2 separate regions of the Homo sapiens genome follow, and region 2 is linked to region 1. Evidence: fine-mapped expression QTL. Tissue or cell type: testis. Region 1 holds a variant in brackets; the other region holds the start of a gene. All regions are shown on one strand. Distances are from middle to middle.

The links. PIP is the estimated chance that this variant, and not a neighbour inherited with it, causes the effect.
Region 2: RADIL starts here. The variant in region 1 is fine-mapped to the expression of RADIL in testis (GTEx, PIP 0.96).

The regions. Positions count from the first base shown.
Region 1 is chr7:4,797,695-4,800,374 of GRCh38, forward strand. It overlaps RADIL (Rap associating with DIL domain), which reads right to left. Exons shown (of 15, transcript NM_018059.5): 13 at 2,477-2,616; 14 at 1,936-2,075; 15 at 1-1,789. The coding sequence ends at 1,684. Among named protein-coding and RNA genes, the nearest start is that of MIR4656, 10 kb to the left of the region's middle. RefSeq lists a silencer at 484-533. The variant T/C (reference allele first, on the strand shown) is at 1,493.
Region 2 is chr7:4,882,292-4,884,971 of GRCh38, forward strand. It overlaps RADIL (Rap associating with DIL domain), which reads right to left and starts at 1,425. Exons shown (of 15, transcript NM_018059.5): 1 at 1,305-1,425. RefSeq lists enhancers at 127-421, 151-839, 840-1,527 and a silencer at 1,237-1,456.

The DNA of each region.
Region 1 (2,680 bases):
ACAAGGCCAGGCATGGTAATCCCACGCCTGTAATCCCAGCACTTTGGGAGGGCAAGGCGGGCAGATCACTTGATGTCAGTTTGAAATCAGCCTGGCCAACGTGGTGAAACCCTGTCTCTACTAAAAGTACTAAATTAGCCAAGCGTGGTGGCAGGCGCCTGTAATCCCAGCTACTCAGGAGACTGAGGAGAATTGCTTGAACCTGGGAGGTGGAGGTTGCAGTGAGCTGAGATTGCACCACTGCACTCCAGCCTGGGTCACAGAGCGAGACTCCGTCTCATAAAAAAAAATTAAATATTTATATTTTATATAATAAAATATAAAAAATGTTTATAAAATATACGAATATATTACGTATACATGAATATGTAATATATTCATATATAATTATATATTTATATATATTCATATATTTTACATATCTTAAATATATATACAAACACTATATATATATATATATTTTATCCAGTATTTTGGGAACCTGGCAGTGGTCGCCGTTTCGAGCCAGGCGCAATGCGGAGCCGCACACAGAACTGCGGGTCGGCAGAGGGCGCGGGGCGGACGCGCTGCACCTCGCCGTAGCGCACACCAGGGGGCAGCGTGGAGCTGCACGAGGCCCAGGGCCTGGGACAGACCCAGGACACCGATCTGGGGACCCCGCACAGACCTCTGTCCCAGTGAGAGGTGCATCTGCAACTGATGCCGGGACCCTCTTCCCCAGGGTTTCTCTGTTGCTATCAAAGATGACCCTGGGCCACCAGTTCCACCACAGCCAGGAGGGCGCGGAAGCCACCCACACCCAGTTGGTGGAGCTGCTGAGGATGCCCAGCGACCCACGCTGTCACCCCGAGGCAGCAAGTGCCCTGCCCTGGTCCTGCGCATGGTCAGCCAGCTGGTGGAGAGGGACGCTGGCCTCCTGCCCGGGTTAGGGCCGGTGGCCAGGGGGACGCTGGTGAGGATTAAGGGCCTGGGGCCGCCAGCCTGGTATCAGGGCCACGCTGGTGGCTTTAGTAGGGGAGAGGAACTCAGGAGGGAGCAGGAGTCCTGGGAGAGGAAGCAGGGCCCAGGGTGGGCTCGGCGCCTCAGAGACCATCAGGCCGGTCCACTTTCCAACGCCTGGGTGTCTAGACCTTTCTCTGGGGCCTGTGCTGAGCAGCGGGATCAGAAGTCCAGCATCCTCTGCCAGGTCTGGCCCTGCTTCAGCTGGGAGGGGCTGTTGGAGCTGCTTCCTGCAGTGCCCTGTGTCTGGGTGGGACGGGGGCAGGGAGAGTCAGTTCAGATGATCCCCTGATGACAGCTGTCACTGCATTCTCCCGTGCCGGTGGCAGGCAGAGGCCATGGGGAGCCCCTGCGGCCCCTCCGAGCAGCCCACGCCTGCTGCCCGAGTTGAGACCCCAGCAGGGCACCCTCTAAGAACGGGAAAAATAGTTTATTGAACCGTACTTCTCCATTGAAGTCTTTAAACATAAAAGCTCTGTAACAAACATCACAA[T/C]TTCACGTCATCTGCCATATAAATAGAACCTACACTGAGATGCATGTTATCAACAGGCATGTCCCCAGGGTGAGGCTCCCCACCCGGGACCCAACTTGGTCAGTTACAAAACAGGGACGAAGGCGGGAGGAAGCCCAGTGTCACCAGGTGGGACCGGGTGCCGGGCCTGTGGGGGTGTCCTCGCAGCCCCCCTAGAGAGGGGGCGTGCGGAAATGGATCTTCTTGGCTGTTTCCACGTCGGACTTCGCGACCAGGAACCGCATCTTCTTCCCGCCATGACGGATCAGGTCCACAGCTCTGAAATCCATGCCAGAGGTGGGGGTGGGCAGGAGGGCACCAGGGGAGACCCACAGGGTGCAGCCGGGCCTCTCCTTTACCCCAGGTCCACTCCCCTGAGCAGGGCATCTGGGAGAAGGGGCCGGGCGTGCATGCGGTGGGGGTACCTCAGGTAGCCAAGGCCCAGGAGGCTGCTGCCATTCACCTCCAGGATACGGTCCCCCAGCGACAGGCGCCCGTCGGCCGCTGCGGGGCTGCCCGGGAGCAGGGTCTGGATGTAGAGCCCGGGGGCGCCCAGGTGCGTGTGCTGGGGACAAGCAGAGGCCTCAGAGCTCCGCAGGCCCGACTGGCTGTCCCCAGCGAGGACCACTGCAGCCCCTCCCTTGGCACCTACAGGCCCCCGCCTGGCATCCAGCCAGGCCCACTCATGGTTTCACGCGTCCCTCCAGAAAAGCAGTGGACACCACCGTCCCCACAGGCCCAGGACAGACCCCAAAGGCTTGAGGACAGAGGCAAGAGACAGCAGGCCCAGGGGGCGTGGCCGTTGGACAGGCTGGGTTCCCCTCCCAGCTGCAGAGGCCAACCCCACTCTCCTCCCCGAAGGCCTTCCTGTAGCCACGTGGCCACGCAAGCTGCGGCCAGGCTTGCATGAACAGGCGGGGCCAGGCAGCCAGTATGGGGGTGCGGCGAGGGTCCTGGGCCACTCACCATCCCGTCGATCAGGCCCATCCCCAGCCCGGAGGGGCCTCGTTCCAGCTCCACCGTGAAGACGTAGCAGAAGTCCTCGGTGCTGGAGCTGCGGCTGGACGGGGCTGGAGGGGACTCCTCCGCAAGGGCTGCAGAGTCTCCTGGGTGGGGGCCAGGAAAGGTGGGTGGGAGTGAGGCGCCAGGAATCACGACGAGGAATGGGAT
Region 2 (2,680 bases), 85 kb after region 1:
TCCGACCGGGCGGAGCACGCCCTGGGTAACAAGATCTGTTTTTCTGGAAGTGCGACCGGCCTCTTCTGCCCCATTCGCTCCTCTGTGACACAAATACTTGGGGAAAGCGCAGGGCTCGGACAGCGAGGGTGTGGGGCGCTGGCTGGTGCTGCTCTTAGAGAATGTTTTCTCTTGTTCTCAAGGAAGGGTCCAGTTTCTGATGAAAAACAAGCTCAAGTCCCAGCGGCGAGTACAGGGAGTGAGGTCAGTGCTGCGCTGACGACATGGGTGGAGCGACCTCTCTGCTCCAACAGGACAATGTGGAACCCATTATCATTTCCAGCAGGAGGGAAAACGAAGCGCAGACTTTACACACTCAGCTCTCTCCCCTCCTTCCATGAATCCTATCTTTACAGCCCCAGCCCGAGCCACGCTTTCAAATGCAAACATAATTCAATCAGATTTAATTCTGACCTGCTAGCTGCTGGAGAGGAGACCGACTTGCCCCCCAGCAAAAGGGACTTTCAAGACTGGTTCCTGTCTGGAATGCACAAGAGGTGGCCTATATTAACCGCGGGACACGAGCAATCAGATTCTTCTGTGCAATTCAGATTAGCCAAACACTTGACAGGCGACAGGGCAGGGCAGGATGGTCCGCAGCCCCGCCAGGGCCCTGCCAACCCCACCAACAGGCTCCTCCTGCGAGGCCCCAGGAGCTCGGCTCAGCATCTGTTATCTTGGATGCAGTATTTGTCGAGGGGCTGGAAATGGTACATAAATAGCCGGGAAACAATGCTTTGAGCTGGCGCACGAGTGGGGATCGGGCTGCAACCGGGACGGGGTATGTGCAGGGGACGTCTCGCCGGCCCAGGTGGGAGAGCGCGCGGAACCCTGCGCCCCGCTCCCCCGCTGCGCCCCGCTCCCCCGCTGCGCGCCCCGGACGAAGCTCCCCCTCCAGGGCACAGCCGGGAAAACTGAGGGCCGAGAGTCCCCTGGAGTTGGGGGTCCGGGGCCCACGCGGACAGCCAGGCTCAGGAGCTCTCGGGGGTCGGCAGCGCGGACCCCCGGATCCCCGCAGGCTGGGCCGCCCTTGCCCGCGCTAGCCGGCCTCCGGGTACCGCCCCCCGGTCCAGGCCGGGGCCCGACAGCCAGTCGGTTCCCATGGCAACTGGGCAAACCTGCCCTCCGCGCCCCGACCAGCGGCCGGGAGTGTCCCCGAGCGCGCCCCGCGGCCTCCGCGCCCCAGGTCCCCGGCAGCGGCCGAGCAGCGCCCCTTACGAGCCACCCCCGGTTCCGCAGTCACTCCTCGCGCACCCCACACTCACCTCCGGCACAACCCGCCGCGCCGCCACGTTCCCGCGCTGCTCCCACCCGCCGTTGGCTGGGGCCGGCGCCCAGACCCGCGCGTGCCGCGGCGCCTCCTGCCGGCGGCGCAACGGGCGGGGCGGGGCCTCAAGGGGACGGGGCCACAAAGGGTGGGGCGGGGGAGAACAGGTGGGCTGGAGCTGGGCCTCGGCGCCCAATAGGCAGAAAGAAAGCCTCGAGGAGGCGGGGTCTCCAGGAGAGGGGCGGGGCCAACCTGCTAGAAAAGGCGGGCTGTGCTCTGGCGCCTCCTGCCGGCCGCCCAATGGACGGGGATGCAGCCTCGAGGGGGCGGGGCCTCACCGGAGAGGCGGGGTTTTGAAGAAAGGGGTGGGGCTGGTTGTGGAGAGGCGGGACTTGCAGCCCACCCACAGACTGCAGCTTAAGGAGGGGGGGTCCCCGGAGGAAGGGTGGGACCAGTTCTAAGTCCCTGAGCTGCTTGTGGGCTCTGGGCTCCTGCGGTTGGGTGGGCTATTTCGAGACAGCACCTTCTAGTAGCCCAGTGAGTGGGTGTAGGGGAGGGTAGAGCTGTGCCCCCAATTAATAAACATCTTCTAAGACATCGAAAAGGAACAAGGGAGGAATTTCCTCTCCCCTACCATCTGTCTCCCACCCAGAGTTTTAAAAGACAAATCAGGTCATGGCATTCCTGCTTACAATTATGCAAAAAAATGACCAGGTCAGCTCTGGGGCTCTGGCCCCAACTGCTCTCCCTGGGGACTTGTTTAAAAAGCAGCTCGTGACCTCGGCACTTTGGCTGGGGTTTTCCCTTTGAGGAATGTGGGCTAGACCTGGGAGATTCAGGTGGTTCGGAATATCAATATGCAGAATGTGGGCCTCGGGAGTGAACCTTTTTGTGGACAGCTATCGTGGTATGATTTCCGTAGTCATGACCCCATATTCGCGATGGAGGTCGGAGCAGACATTGATGAGTGTGGGAACAGACATTTATTGACCACCTGTGTGCCAGGCCCTAGGCAACTTTACCTAGGTCACCTCACTTAATGCTCACATCAATTCTTGTGAGACAGAGATGTCTGAGACATTCCAGGCCTCCCCTTTCCTCCACCTATCACCTGCTAATCCTAAAGTCCACCTCCTAAACCTTTTCTAATAAAAAATAGTGCCTCAAAGTCAACACAGAGAGACAGATTTGAGCCAGGCTCCTGTCTCCTTATTGATCAACTCACAATACGGACAAAAAAAGCTTTTGTCTCAAAAACTTAATGCAGTAAGATTGGCTTTTTTTTTTTTTTTTTTTTTTTTTTTTTTTGGAGACAGAGTCTTATTCTATTGCCCTAGCTGGAGTGCAGTGGTGTGATCTCAGCTCACTGCAACC